Linked DNA regions of Homo sapiens: region 1 is linked to region 2. The links come from fine-mapping of genetic effects on gene expression. Tissue or cell type: whole blood. Region 2 holds a variant in brackets; the other region holds the start of a gene. All regions are shown on one strand. Distances are between the middles of the regions.

Region 1 (8,103 bases), 88 kb before region 2:
AATAACTTTTTCTTTCCATTCACAGAGTGGCCAACTGTTTGGTGTAAAGGCCTAGCTTTTGGTCTATCTCGGTGTTTGATATACCTTCTTCACTAAGCTTATGTCTAGATTTTGATTTAAAGAGATATGTCACTCTTCCTTTCACTTGCACACTTAGAGGCCATAGTGGGGATATTAACTGGCCTAATTTCATTATTGTTGTGTCTTAACGAATAGGGAGGCCTGAGGAGAGGAGGGGAAGAGCCAGTCGGTGGAGTAATTAGCACGCACACACACACTAGTTAAGTTCTATGTCTTATTTGGGCACAGTTCATGGTGCCTTAAAACAATTACAATGGTAAAACCGAAATAACTGATCACAGATCACCATATCAGATATAATAACAAAAAAAGTTTGAACTATTGTGAGGATTACCAAAATGTTACACAGAGACATAAAGTGGGTACATGTTGTTGGGAAAATTGTGCTGATAAGACTTGTTCCAAGCAGGGTTGCCACAAACCTTCGATTTGTATAAAAAAGCAGTATCTGCAAGGCATAATAAAGCTATGTACAATAAAATGAGGTATGCCCATATAGGACAGAATGAATGTATTTTAATAACATTTAGTTTTATTTTCAAATAAAGTCTTAAGCAAAGCTTTCTTCACTGATTGGTCTGAAATTTGGTCCCAGCTTTAAGTAGATTTACTTTGAGGAGTACTAATCACACTGGGATAATAAAGACTTCCTACACTAATGAAGCAAAACTTTACTGGTGGAAACAGCCTGATGCCTTTAATGTGTGTATTCACATATTAAATTTTTACTATTTTATTCTTAAAATATCCTCATTTATTTCTAAGCTCCCCCCGGGTGGGGGGATAATTTATTATTTACTCTAGGGTGTTTTCTATAGGATTACTTCCAAAGATTGACATTATTAGAAGTAAAATGAACACCTCCCAAGGCAATACTTGTGGAGAAGACAGATTTTGGAGTCGATTTGGAGGCAGACCTGTATTCTAATCTGCTTTTACCCACTTACTGGACACATGGTAATGAGCAAATTACATGCACTCTCTAAACTTCAGTATCTTCATCTATAAAAATGGAGCACTAAGAGTTCCCTCACAGGATTGTGGAGATCAGAGGTATGTGTAAAATGCTAGGTACAAAGAAGGTAATCAACCAGTAAGTGGTAGTTACAACAGTGCAGTTTATTTTGGTTTGCTGAACTGCCAAAGTTCTCTTGTGATCTTAATTTGTTGATTACTTTGTACATCTGGATACCTTGCATGTGTTTTGCAATGTGAATCTTGGGTCTCTAGGGTATAAAAAGTAGCTAAATATAACTAATATTGAAAATGTGCCTTTCAGAATGCCTTGCTGCATAAATCTCTTAAAATGAATCTAAAATATTCTACAAAGCTTGGAGCAAAGACCATAATGAGGTTTGCAGTATTTGCTTTGTAAAATTTTGGTTGAGTCCTTTTGCAAGTCAGACGGCTGATAGTTACATAGGAAAAGTCTCAATGGAAGCCTCCTCCTCCGGCCCCACCCAAGCAATTTTTGTAAACACACACTGACTTAAAGCTGAGGAACCCCATTTTTCACCATACAAAGCTCAGTACAGAACAGTGTGGGGAGTCAGATGCTCTTGGATTTGAACCCCTGCTTGACCACTTCCAGGTTGTGAGACCTTGACCAACTTACTTAGTATTTCCAAGCGTGGGTATCTTCATCCATAAAGTTGGGGATACTTTGGGGCTGTCCTTAAGATTAAATGAGACATTGCATATAAAGTGTTTATGCGCATACGGCACATTCGAAGTGCTTAATAAATGGGAACTATTATTTGTAAAATCTTCAAACTCACGTTAACCGATATGTCCTATTTTATTCAAAAATTGTTATAATGTAACACACACAAAATAAGTTCACTTGAGTCTCAAGTACCAAATTATATGGTTGGTCTTGCCTCACCTTTTGCCTCTAGTTTTCTATACCCAAGTTCCTTTCCTTCCCCTATTATTCATGAACATGTTTTTTGCCCTAGTGTTTCTCAATGGTTCCTGCCCATCCCCCCAGTTGAAATAGCATGGGGGTCAGGGGAGAGCATGGAGAAGGGGAGACCTTGTAACAAACTAGCAAGGGGTTTCTACCTTTCCTCTATCTCCAAGATTCTATTAATAGTATATTCTCCTAAAGGTCCTATTAGTTTACATAGCTCAAGTGGGGAGACAATGATAGCTAATATTTAGTATTCACCTAATAGTGTCAGATACTATGCTAGGTGAGTTACCAAAGATATTTTGACTCTTCATAACAACTAGACAACGCGGATCCCACTATTTCTGTTTCTGAGATGGGTAGATACAAGTTCTGACCCAGTAATTCGCTCAAAGTCGTGCAGCTAGTTAGCTGGCAGCGTCCTTGCACATCTAATTGCAGATGCATCTGCATCTACATTAGAGTAAATGTTCCAATTATACTCATACAATGAATGCTATGAATCTGGCCAACAGAATTCCAGACACTAACAAGTAAATAAATCAGGCTTTCCTCAATCCCAGTAATTCATGTTTAATATTCCTTGGCAAATACTGAATTTCAATCTGTGCTTATTTCATAGAGTAGAATCTTTCAAATGTTGTGTTATCGAGTCCTACATAGTCAAAGGGAGGGGAAAGACAAGGAGGGTGATTAAGGTGAAGCGTTTCTTCCATTACTGGTAGAACGAAGTTTCTCATCTCTTAAGCACCGAATTCTGCAATCATTCCAAAAGTGGAAGCTCAGCTCACAGCGCATTTTGGGGAAGCTTAAACCACACTAACCATTTAAGGTCAAGCAAACAATTGGCCAACCCTAACGTGAATTGTGCAGGGTTTTCATCTCAGATGTAACAGATCTCTCTATGTCTACATCCCAACTCCAGAAAACGAGAAATCGAGTTCCTCCTCTCACCATCGAAGCTCTGCAGACACCTCGCTGGAGACCCCATGGTGAGCCTCATCACGTAAAGGCCCCCTCGCAAGCTGCCGGCTCCAGCTTGCGCCCCACGTCTACCTAGGCTCCCTCTAGCCTCTTTAACGCACAGTCGAGCAACAGGCCCCTTGCAATCAACTCTAGCCGCCGGACTCCCGACCAGGTCTCTCGCTCGGGGTCAGAAGGAGGCGCGGGAGGGAGGGCGGCGGCGGCGGCGCCCGCGGGGCGGGGCGGGGACTGTGCGCAAGCGGGGGGCGGGCGCAGGCCGCGGTCTCGCTCCGCTCCCCTTTGTTCTCTCCCATTGTGTGGCACTTCCTCCTCAGGCGCTTCTTCTCTGCACCCTGGCAGCCCGTGGGGAGTTCGGGAAGGGGCCCTGGATGCCTTTTCTGCTTGTTTTTGAGTACGTGAGGACCTCCCCGGCACCGCCTCGCGCGGGTCCCTGCCCCGTGCCCAGGCGGAGGCGGGGTGGCCACTGTCCTTCCTTCCCGCTCCGCGCCCTCGGCGGCTTCCCCGCGGCCCCCTGCGCCGCGCCCCCTCCAGGAGGCGTCCTGACCCCGCACTCCGGCCTTTCACCTCCCGACCGTCAGCCTCAGGGCCGCCGCGGCGACGCGCGACCCCTTCCCTCTGAGGGGCGCGGGCTCCGGACGCGCCGGGCTCTGCCAGGCATCTAGTGGAGGGTCGGAGGTCGGCGACCAGCCCGAGCCCAGCCGTCCCGGGAGCTGGCGCGAGTGTCGCCACGACCCTCCCTGTCCCTTGCGCTCGCGCTGCCCGGCCGCCGGGCGGCCGCCTCAGCCCCCTTATATAGCCCTCTAAAAATAGCTCGCCTCGCACCGCCTTGTAAGGCAGCAGGGAGATCCGCAGCGTGCCAATCCGCGCCCGCCGCCAGGGCCAAGCCCCGCCCCAGGCTCTGCTCCGGGCTCCCCATTGGTCCTCAGTGACTTCATGAGCCCCCTGTTTACCTTACATGGTCACACGCGGCCTAATGGACGCCCTCCTCGAGATCCCACGGCTGCGCGGAGAACCGAACGGAGGGAGGGAGTTTGGGGAGGGGGAAGAGCAGGAGGAGGAGAAAAGGGAGGGGGAAGACTACAAACTAGCAAGGATGGGGTGGGGGGTGGGGAGGGAAGGGAAGGGGGGGGAAGAGAAGCGATCGCGAGAGAAAAAAATGCAACCTCCCAAAATAAAGAGCAAAGATTGCATTAGGAGCGAACAGCGCTGCAGAAATAGATGGCAGCTTCGTGTCAGTGAGTTTGCATCCCCCTTCCTGATCCACGAGCTGGAGTGATTAGAGCCCTGGAAGGGAATTGTTACTCCCGTGGAGAAGTCCCCTTTTCCTGGCAGTCGTCTGCACTGTACACGCTGGATGCCTCTCTCCATCCACCCCACTCACTCGCTCCTCTCTCACCTCCTCTCTCCCTCTCCTGCATTGATTTTTTTTTTTCCTTTTTAGTTGACTGAAACAAAACAAAACAAAAGGGCCACTGGATGTCTGCCTTCTTGGGGGGTGAGCCAGACAGACTGACAAACAAACAGCCCCAACTGTGTTCGGGGGAGGGTTTCGCCTCCCGTTTTGCCCGGCAGCAGCAGCATGGACGTGTTGGCTAGTTATAGTATATTCCAGGAGCTACAACTTGTCCACGACACCGGCTACTTCTCAGCTTTACCATCCCTGGAGGAGACCTGGCAGCAGGTGAATGATTTAAATTACTTGTGTAAATCGTGTGGTGGCGGCGGAGACGCAGGGGCTGCGTTGGTGTGGGCTCTGGGTTGAAATTTTTGTTTGTTTGTTTGACTTTTTTTTCTTCCTTTTTGGCTGTCTGTTGTTGAAAATGTTTTCTGAAACAGTCATCTGCGCTTACCTCTCCACCCACCCCTAACCTCGTAGAGTGCCGAGCTGAGCAGCCGGTGCGAGCTGCCTGCGTTTCAGTCGCCAACACACATCCCTGCGCACACGTTGTCGGGTTTGCTGTCCCCTATCAGAGACCTGCCGAACTTCTGGGGTTCGGAGGAGCCGGGTGGGAAGGTGGTTTGGGGTGTTAGGAGCGATTGCTGACAGGGACCACGTTCTCGCATGCATGAGCTCTACCCACTTGATACCTGAAATCAGGTTCATCTGTTTCAACTGGTGCTTATGACCATCGGATGGGGGGCGGGGGAGGGTGGGCAGGAGCAAAGCGGAGTGTTTTTCAGTAATTAGCGAGTGTCAATAAAGAATAGGAGCTTGATTTTGAGATTAGAAGGTAGGCAAAAGAGAGAAGAGCCCACTGACAAAAGATACTCAAGGAGGACGGGAAGATGTAGCTGAGGCTGACAATGAATTGTAGGTTTTCCCAGTGTGATCCCTCCAGAAAGAGAACACCCTCTATGCGTGTCCTTGTTTCTCTTTTTTGTTTAGGGTCCTTCTCTAGTTAGGCAGCACAACCTCGGACAAAGGCTGATGTGTGCTTCCATGCCTTTGACTTTGTCTTAGAGGACTAGTTAAGAAACTCCCAGGATGCTGAAGGGCACCGATGCCAAGTTGGCTAGCCGTCCCAGGGAGGATGAAGTGGGGCTGGTGACAAGTTCACTGGGCTTTGTGAAGTGGAATAAAGAAAGTGCTGGTCAGTGGAAAGTGCTGGCTCTGCTGCGGAAACAGTGGTTTTTTTCAGCAGCGATTAGGAGCTGCTGAGGGGACATTCTGCAGGAAAGATGGTGGGTGGGGGCGGGGGGACACGGGTATTTAAAAATTGTACAGTGTGCACCATGGAAAGTCCAAGAAGACAGTCCGGATTTGCACATAGGAAGTGTGAACTTGTACAGTCCGTCCTGGAGAAACCCGCTTGCCCTTGGGGGGAGGGCTGTGAGAGGCTCGGTGTGTGGCTGCTCGTGTAATTTCTTCGCTTAGTGACAGCAGCTTGTTAAGGCTAATGAACGGCTGAATTTCCTCTGCCGGGATCCAAAGCAGGATTTGCCAGCTTGAGGCTGAGATGTAACAGTCTCTGCTTTAGCAAAAGAGGTTTGGCTTTTGGTATAAGGAGCCGAGTGGCAAGGCGGATCCTTTAACTGTACCATTGTTGCTAGTTCACTTCTGGTCAGAGGCTGTGAGTTTTCCTCCAGGTATTGGCGTCTGGTGTCTCTGTGTCCACACATGCATTCTTGTCCAAGGACGCTAGCAGATGCTTGACTCTGTCTCTCTGTAAACACATACACAGTTCACATATTTTTAGAATAAAGTCTTTCTTCAATGCATCCTTTTCCTTATCCTTAACGAGAGTGTGTCTCATGAAGGGTCTCACTGGATCTTTTTCTTCCTTTTATTTCCAATGCTAATTAAACCAAAATCTTCTGAAATAGCCTTCATTTCACACTGTCAGCCCACTGGTATGGAATCGGTTGCATATTAACAACTGTCTAGACAGGTTAGAGAAGGGAATCTGTTGATTTAGTCAGCCTGCCCAAGGCAGCCCTTGTTTGTGACTAACTGTTAAGCAGTGTTAGAAGGAAGAAAGTTGGCTTTATTTGTTAGAACGTTCCCTACTGATGAATCATGCAACTTTGTTTTGGTTCAAGTTTTCAGAGTAGTAAAGCCAGATTTGGAGGAAGGTCTCTTCACAGGAAACCTGCTTTTCTAGATCTGGCTAGACCATCCAGGACAAACTCTAGATCTGCAAAGAAACATCATCGGTTTGACAACTAGAGGATGTATTAGATCTATTGTTTCCTAAGAAGCCATCTCTGCTCTTCCTTCTCCCCTCCTCCCCCTGCTCCTCTGCCTCCTCCCCATTCAGGGAAGCTCTAGTTTAGTTTCTACAGGCAAAGGATTTTTCACCCCTCGGAACCCCCTCATTTTTTGCCTTAACCCTCTCCAACTGCCAGCCACTCTCACCTTAAAACCCTTAGCCAACTTATTCAGCGTCATGCTTATAGCCAATGCTGATGCATAGCTTGTGGGGAAGCACTAATAAACAATATATCACTCCAGTGAGCTTTATGTTCTGGACTCCGTAATCACAACTGCTCTATATAAAGGCGACTAGGACCATAGGTTTACACTGATGACAAAACCTTTAACCTCTAGCCCTTCCTTCTTCCCCCTCCCAAAACCGTCTTGCTGCTTCTGAGTATAAGGGGTGGTGATGGTGATATGCAACTGTTAGTTCCAAATCAACTATCGGATAATGAAATTTTGAGACTCTTTTGCTCAAAACAGCTCAACAGGGTTTCTGCAAAGAACCCCAGACAGGAAGAAGTTTCTTTATGCTCTGGGGTAATCAGATTTTAGAGGTCAAATGAGGAGTAATTATTAGATGTTCTTCTTAAAGTGAACAATGTACCTGGGCTCATGGAGATGAGCAAAATGTGGAGACTCTGATAATCTGACTTGGTTTCTAGAGAAAGAGTGGCTTCGATGATAAACTCAAGAACATTTTTACGTTTGAAAATTGAAGATAAACAATTTGGGGATTTTATTTTAAACTTAGGATATGGGATAATTGTCCTGCTTAATAGTCAGTGAGCCTGTGACAAAGTCACTGACTGTGGCAGGGCTCCCTCTCGTCACGGAGATCCTCGTTTTGACATTGGATTTTCTGGCAATGATGCCTTAGCCACATAGCTCCAAGTCTGAAAATAATCGTTGCTGGTATAATTCTGAAATCCAAATGGACATCACACATTAACAGCTCTCCATTCCTGGGCTCTGACTGCATACTTAAGCACTCGGCCCAAGTAACATCATCTTTCTGCCTGTCATATAACTGTAAATTACACTGTGCTTATGTGGTCTATTATTTTATAGAATTCAGCTGACGCGCAATTCTTAAGACTACCAGCCTTAAGCGCTTTGAAAACTTGTAGGAAAATTTCCAAGAGCTGTCTGAGCAAAAGTAGGAAAAGGTCAAGGGTAGGACAGAAACCAGAGTTTCTTATGGGGTACCACTTGATTATGAGTAAAGGGAAACTCATTCATGACTTTTTTTGCCAATAGAAATCATAATCTTTTTTTTTAGACACACTGCTGACTTGGAAAATAAAAAGAATTTGATACAATGCTTTTATTTTCTTCTTGAATATACAAAGACTTTTAGAACTTTTATATGTTTTATCTCTAGTCTGCTATTTCATGAGTGCAGGTCAAGCAGTGATGATCTAAGTCT
Region 2 (8,108 bases):
ACACCTTAGCCTCAGTTTCCTTCACCCCCCTCCTTTCTGCCCCCAACACACACACACACAAAGCGTGAGAATACTTACCATGGAGGGTTGGTGAGGATGGCGTGATATTGGGAAAACCCTTAGCATAGTGCCTACATATCGTAACATACTCAATAACTGTGAGCACCCTTCTTCATCCTTTTTTTTTTTTTTTTTTGACTTGAATATAGAGTGTCTGATAAGCCTGTAAGTAGTATCACAAGCAGTATTTCTAGGCTTTCATTGTAAAGTTTAGGGTTGAAATCTGGGTGTTGAAATTTCAAAGTTCCACCCTTTGATGATATAGACTAATTATTCTTTATTATATTTACAGTATGCAGGCATGACACAGGTTTCAAAAGCACTTTCCCATTCTTCTTTAATAATCACAATTATGATCATAACAGTTAACATGCACTGAGATCCTACGATGTGCCAGTCCGTATTCTAAGTACCTTGCATAGATCATCTCATTTAATCCTCACAACCCACCTATGAGGTAAATGCTATAATTATCCCCACTCTACTGAGGAGGAATTAAAGTACAGACAGGTTAATGTGCTCCGAGTCACACAGCTATTGGAAGAGATAGGATTTAAACCCAAACATTTTGTCCCTTAAACTTACCTTCCCAACACATGGCCCTGTTTCTCAATGCATGTGCACTGTCTCTGTTTAAAGTAAGGGAAATCATTTCCTAAGGAGTGATGCAAGTCAAGCTGTTTGCTGGGAGTTCTCTAATATCCTTGTTGTTTATATCTCCTAGGTGTTTTTCCAGGTCTGACCATCTTGCCCTCCACATGAAGAGACATATCTAAAAAACCGAAAGGCCAGAGTTGCCATGGCATCGGCTAGTGTCTAAAGGAAACGCCATGAGGCAGGGGGCTGGACTTCAGGCGGGGACCCATTGCCTCGCAGAAGAAAGTTCTCACTTATAAACCTCTGTACACACACACACACACACACACATATACACACACTCACAGACCCACACACATACACACTGTCATGCACTCAACTATATTTAAAATATATACGTCTATTCTTTATGCCTTGCCCTAGCCAGATGGAAGAAGATGAAGAAGGAAACCAGGTGAACTCAGCAAGGCAGACTGGCTGCTTACTTCAGCACTATTGGAATTATTTCCCGCTGTTGCCAATGGAAATCAAAGAAAATGGATGTGACGTCTGTGCAGGTGGACGGCAGTCCGAGGGGCTTATTTCACTTGCTTCTCAGTGCAACTTGATAGGAGAATCCAGCATCTTAAAGTTGCATATGTGTAGCACTAATGTTTCTTTTTAAATAGTTGGGGGAAAATGACCTAGAAAACCAAATTGCAGTTTGGTAGCCAAAATTAACTCTTGGTTTATTTGTCCTTTGTGTGTGAAAAGTCCTACTATTCCGTGCGTCAGACTTCCTCACAGAACTGTTGACTGGTTTTGGTTCTTAGTACTATTGAGATCTTTCGCGTCGATCCCAACGGCCTTAGCGGCGGCAGACTGGAATAACACCTTACACCTTTCTGGCCTGCATTTCTGTAGACTTCACTCTCAAGGGAGGAGTTTTCTTTTCTTACGTTTTGACTTTTGCACACCATATGCACTAGGGATTCTGGAAACTTCTAGCATGACTGCAAAGTGGCCAAGAGAATAAAGTCCTTGATGATAAATCACAGTATATCCCTTGAGCCTCACCTTATTGCCAGTGCTAGATTTTTTCTTTTTAATCTCTCCGTTTTTGCTAACGAAAACTTGAAAAGCTTATTTGGAAGCTTAAATGTTTTATCTTTTCTCCATGGACTAAACCTCTCCAGGACTCTCTCGGCACCTGGATGTCCAGCTCTCGAAGCAGCCAGTCAGATGGGACATCACAGTTCTCTCATCCTCCTTGAGGCATGATGACCTCAGCTCATAGTGATCAACCGTTGTGCTGTGTGTCATTGCTACCCCATAACCAGTTACAGCATAGATGTCGCTAGTCTCAGAGGGCAGCTGCGTATTTAATTTAACTCTGGTTTATGACCTGACAAAAAGCCAAAAATATCACTCTTTCCAGGAGTGGGGAAAACTGAGGATGCCTCCCAAGTCTAGTGGCTTCACAAAAGATCATCCTGTCTTCTCTGTCATGCCCACTGAGCTCCTATTCCCCTACGTGTTACAATACACAATTTAAAACGCCATTGTGGGAGTGAAGGGTTGACATTTAAGGAAAAGGTTGAGGTGTTTCTCTCATGGGCTGTCTAAAAGGAGAGACACGTTTCTTTCTTTCCTTTTTTTTTTGGCTAGGCCCACCATGACTTGTGACCTAGAACCCCCAGGATTAACAGAGGCCTCACATTTACTCTGCAAGCTGACTCCAAAGGAGTCTACAGTCCTTACTTGTCATGCCACACTCACACATCCAGTAGTGGTCTCTATCTACCCGCATTCCTAGCTAGCTGGCACTGGCCTCAACTCCAAAGACTGCCTTTAGGACCATCAAATGGCCTATGCAAGCAAGCGGGGTGGTTATTAGGACAGATTGTATATTTTGTATATTCTGGGACCATCCCTTCAAGACACGTCTATAAAACAAAAATGGCGCTTGGTCCACACACGGTTGCTGCTCCCTCCTACCAGCTGGCTCCCCTCCTGTCCTCCTTTGACTGTTTGACTCATTGACTGTTAAAATGCCACCCCATACATATTTGGGATGCAAAACTGAAGTCAAAAGGAAATAATATAAGAAACACAAACACATATATGACAGCAACCTTCAAGATCTGGGTTTTCAGCTTTCTGCAACCTTTGTTTTCACTGAAATGTTGAAACTACTCGTCTGAGGGCAAAGGAACCTCCTCACAAATGCTATAGCTGCCAATTGGACACTTGGGGCATTTCGAGGTCTGGCCCTAAGAATTTACTTTCTCCTTTTCCTTTTTTCTATTTAGACCAAAAAAAACAAAAACAAAAACAAAAAAAAAAACAAAATAATACAAAACGAAAAAAAAAGAAAGAACACCCGTTAACACACACGCGCACACACACACAAAATCTGTCCATTTGCCGGAGGCAATTGTATGTATGTTAGTTGGAGGGTATTAAAAATCAGTTTTATTCCAAAGATTTAAAACTAGACATGACTTAAAAACAATTTCTGGAGCACTGCTTGCTGACAATCTCGTAGTTCTCTGCTGCATTTGAGTGCATTTTGTGGCCAGTCCATCAGGGCGTACCATGGGATTATATTTGAATGTGTGGTGCATCCTTCCTGGATGAAGGATGTGTGAGGGACCTTGAACCTCAGCTGTATTAAACTGTAGCGCCTCCAGTCAGTGCACTAGATGAAACTTTTAGACACCCTGAATTCTGTTGGTTCCTTTCTTTTCCTTTATGTAGCAGCCTCCAGCATGAATGCACGCACACGCCAGTGATGGCATTAAGCCATGGCCACCACGATTTGCAAATGTTCTCTCCCAAGCTGGAGCTGCTCTTGCCTCTCGAATGCTATTATTAAGGGTTTATAATACTTAATTTAATTTTCGAACTGACCAATGCAAGGCTCTATTAAAAAGAAAGTTTAAAAAATGCAAAAGAGTAATCATTGCTTGTTTGCTCCCTATTTTCATCTGTGGTCTCATTTGAATGTGGCAGAACAAAGGCCCTTTGGTCCTCATCAGTGTCTGAAATGTTCAGTAATTTCTCTCTCTTTTGTATCAGTGAGGTCCTTTGTAATCTGCTCCTGACCTTTCTTGGAGCAGGGTGCATTGAAACTCAATGGTGGTGCTTGCTTGCTTCAGAGTCATTTGTTGACTGTGAGAATTGGCCTAAGAATTTGGTGGGTGCTAAGTGGATGGCTTTGAAACTGTTCTTCTTTAGCCGAGTTGACACCTGTGAATGATGACCAGTCCTGATCATTTTGGAAATGGATTTGTAATAAAACGTCCATCACCTCTGCAGTGGCAGAGATGGTTACTAAGAGCCGCTAGAGCGAGCAGGTTTTCCAAGAAGTAACCTGAAGACATTTTGCTCCCAAGAGGACTGGTTATTTAAAACAGTGCATTAATGGACATTTGAAACACATTAAACCCCTTTCTCATTTCAGTTGTTACCTCCTAACCCTCCAGGGGATCCCAAATTTGAAAGGAAAAACCCGGCCTGGTGTTTCTGGTGGTGTCCTAACAAGCACGCTTTTATCCAGGGTTCAGATTTGTTCATGTAGAAAAAGAGTTTCTAAGCCACTGACAATTTTTTTTTTTTGTAATTTCAAATTATACTTCTTTCTCCTGCCACATGACTGTAAGTCATAGACATGGAAACCTGAAATTATAATGCTGCTCCTAGCTACTGGCCTCCTGCCCCACCCATGGTTAATGGCTCAGCTCAATGCCTGGTGGTAATGAGTATTATGTCCAGAAAAAGAGATGTTCAGATTCCATGACAAAGCTGCATTTTTGTAAAAATATTGGAGACCCCAAAATGAACTTCATGCTGACCATTTCCTCCTCTCTGTGTGCTTTCCCTTGCAAAGCCCTTCAAATATCCTCTTCTCTCGACGCCATCTCCTCTCCACCTGCACCTCTTGTGCCCTTTGTACATCTTTGATTGCCTGATGATAACAGGGTAAAAGGACAGCCAACCTCATGCCTGATTAGCAGAACTGAATCCTAGTTTTAAAAAATCTTCTCTGGCTTCAGAGAAGATTTTATAAGGACTTTTGTTTGGGATAAGCTTTCCAGATTATCCATGTCTATTTGCATCAAAGGGGAAAGAAATGGGGCTTTTGGATGGCTCTTCCAGTGCATTCGGAACATTGCCTCTTGCCTTTATTCCTGCATTTTATGGCAAAGCCAAAAGAAACTCAAG[T/G]TGCAAGAACAAAACCCAGTGACTCGTTTTGATGGTTCAAAATGGTTTCCTTTATGGAAGTCACTTCATAAAATGTTAAGTAAAAAGTGGGAAGTGCTTCTGTCTTCTCTTTTGCATGAGTTGCTTTTAGGAGCAGGAAGAAGGTAGGCAAAGTAAGATAAAGATGCAACACATTTAACTACAAAAATCAGGTTCATTTTTTAGTTTATTAGAATTTTTTTGAAATCTTAAGAGGGCCAGCATTTCTGGCTACAATTTTGCACCCAGAACATTGCCAAAATGAACATTCAGTAAATAGAACCTGATTGAAATTTACTCCTGGAAGCTTTCCTTTGCATTTTCGGGAAGTGGCCACCTGCCAAGCGCAAGAGTTGGGGGGCAGGAGGGGAGGACTCAAATTCAGGGTGTCTGGATTAAATTTCGGTGAACATGGTGATATCTCAGTTTGAAAACTAGAGGGCCTATCCTGAGTATACATCAATGTCTCTTTGATGGCCTACTTTCCTCAGTGAGGATCTTTGGGAATACTTGAGATGGAACAACAGAAATGTGTGAAAGGAAGCAGAAACTTCTTGTAAATAACGTGACCTCCCACGACGAACTGCCTGAGGCTTCAGGGTTTTTTCTTGCTTTTAACACTCTTAAATCTCCTCTGTTGGTTCCTAATAGATCCCAGAAAAGGGAAAAATAAAGCTGCAGTTAACTTTCTTATGTGCATCCTTCCAATAGAGTACTGTATTTTTCAGGTGTTTTGCATTTAACATAAAAGTCCTCGGGAAACAGGTGTCAAAAACAGAGAGAGAAATCCTGGGCCATCACTTCACAAATATCCCAAACAAGATATTCTTTTCAAACAGGGCTCCCTCTCAGTGGTCATGAGGGAAGGTTGATAATGTTCTTTGTTGGGGACTGTTTATACAATTTTTTTTCAACTGTGAGCTTTGGAATCGTAACTTGCTGTGAGTCCAGCTTCTGTCTACTGCCATAAGATGGACCCCACGTCAGCATAATGAGGGTGGTATATATGCTCGCACCTAGACATGCGCATATGTACCTGTCGTACCTTCACGGAAGGAAAACAGGCTACTGACGTTTCGGAGGAGTAGCCACCAGTGCCTAATATCTTTTGGGGGGGATGGATGCTTATAATTGCCAGTATATCGAAACCACACTGGGAGTTCCACATAGCGGGGAGGGGTTGGGGGTGGGCAGAGGGGACATTTTAAACCTAGGCCTTTGGACTGGAGGCAGAACGATTTCTGCAAACCTAGGTCCTGAAGGCTTTGGGGCTTATTGGCTGGTTCTCAACCTTTTTGTTTTTTCTTCCCAGCATGCATTTCCTATCTAAACCCAGACTTAGTTTAATTTCCTTATCTTTCACTTCTGCTTCATTCCAGGGAGGAAAAATACACCTGTTAATGGCCAAGATCTCCTTGCTAACACAGAGGCAAAAATAAATGTCTAATGTTTTTGAAGCCTCCCCTTCCTTTCCACAAGCCCCCACCCGCCCCCGCGTCAAGCTCCTTCTCCCACTTCCTACTCCCACACAACTTCCCAGCCACTGAAACTTTTCTTTCAAATCTCTATTATCCTCTTAACAGTTGCTTGAATAAATTTATTTTTGCACTATACATTTTCTTTTTGCCAGATGTGTCTAACAAGTGTGTTTGGAGAGACCTACTCCCAGCCCCGTCTCCTTCCCCGCCTCCCCCCGTCACATTCTCTCAGGCCTTCTCTGGTATTTATAATATATCACAGAAGTACCCAGTCTTATAGCCCTCGGTTATGCCTTTTTTTGACATTTTATTTTTTTTAAGCTTTTTATATATATATATATATAAATATATTACTTTGTCAAGTTTTTTTGCTGTACAAAAGTCTTAAGATTTAAAACTATTATTTGTATTATATGATGGTGGTATGTTAATGTTACAAAATTATTAATGAAGAAAAAATTTATTTTTGTTACTGGTCTGTTTCATAATTCTTTTTTAAATTGGTATATTGTAAGATATCTATGCAAAAAATGTTATGTGACGCATTTTTATTTAAGAATGTAATATGTGTAATAAACAGTAGAATGTGTTTGGCCTTGGAATACTTTACTGTATTTCTCCTTAGCTTGTTTCACTGGGGAAAAAAATCTTCGAAAGACGCAAGTGGGTACTTACATACTTCGTGAAAGTTTTCTTTCTTGGAGAAAGGGAAAGCAAAAGGTTGTATTAGGTTATCTTCGTTTGGGAAGTTGTGTGTGTGTGTGCGTATGTGTGTATTTTATAGTTTCATTGAGGCAGCTCAATGCCCAAATAAGGGTCACTGAGTTTATTTCTTCAAGGGGAAAAAGGGAGCCAATTGTTGGAGATTATGAAAAGCAATATTTTAGAATGATAGAGATTACAAGATGTTATTTGTTTAGGGGGTTGGGAGAGGCTTATTGAAAGCGGTTTATTTGGCGAGAGAAGGAGGCAGTTTGTTCTGGGATGGTGTTTAATAGGAACCTATTGGGAAAGGATCTTTGAAGCAGTCTGTGAAGGAGGAAGGGTAAAGATCAGAGGGAATAATTTAGGTGAGGGGTAGGGGGCAGTAAAATGACAGGAGGTGGTTGGAGTGGGGAGGAAATGGGTAACCGGAAGCCAGGAAATCCAGCTGGCTGTGGAGAGTACAAAAAACTAGATGGAAATACAAGCAGCTTCAGACCCAGAGAAGAGAGGGAGATGAAAGCCCCAGGGAAAATTCTCAGAACTGAAAAGAAAAGTACTAAAATCTCTGCCACACACGACTTCCAGGAAAGAGCATCACCAGTAAGGAGGAAGGTAGAGAACCCAGCTGGTGGTGTCGCCTCAGCATCCCGAGCTCAGCGATTCCCCGAGAGAAGTGGTGTCATTCACAGGAAACAGCAGTAAAACACATTTGTCACATGGGACACAGCAGTAGTCAAGCTTTCTTTGCATTCTTTGGACTTACAGAAGTGGATACGGTGGTGAATAACCTCTATCCCTAATCAAATGAATCTGACAAGAAACTTTCCAATAAATGTTTACTTTAGAAACCGTGGCTAGTGTGACTGAATTTGCTGCATGGACACAGACATTTCTCATGTCCCTGAACAGGAAACAGGTGTCAGGAGTGTAACAGCGGGTTTGGAAGGGAAGCTGAGTGATCAAGTTCTTGCTCTCATAAAACTCAAGGTGAAGAGAACAGTAGGTGCTGCAGGGGCCGGGAAAATGGTTTTGAAGTGTTAAGCA

Evidence for each region. PIP is the estimated chance that this variant, and not a neighbour inherited with it, causes the effect.
Region 1: KLF7 starts here. The variant in region 2 is fine-mapped to the expression of KLF7 in whole blood (INTERVAL, PIP 0.97).

The regions. Positions count from the first base shown.
Region 1 is chr2:207,162,022-207,170,124 of GRCh38, reverse strand. KLF7 (KLF transcription factor 7) reads left to right here and starts at 4,177. Exons shown (of 4, transcript NM_003709.4): 1 at 4,177-4,658. The coding sequence starts at 4,557. It overlaps MIR7845 (microRNA 7845), which reads right to left and starts at 3,725; the gene lies at 3,627-3,725. RefSeq lists silencers at 2,666-2,715, 3,336-3,975 and enhancers at 2,333-3,041, 3,042-3,749, 3,750-4,458, 4,466-4,565, 5,167-5,875 and 1 more.
Region 2 is chr2:207,073,941-207,082,048 of GRCh38, reverse strand. KLF7 (KLF transcription factor 7) reads left to right here. Exons shown (of 4, transcript NM_003709.4): 4 at 785-7,912. The coding sequence ends at 836. Among named protein-coding and RNA genes, the nearest start is that of MIR2355, 32 kb to the left of the region's middle. The variant T/G (reference allele first, on the strand shown) is at 4,864.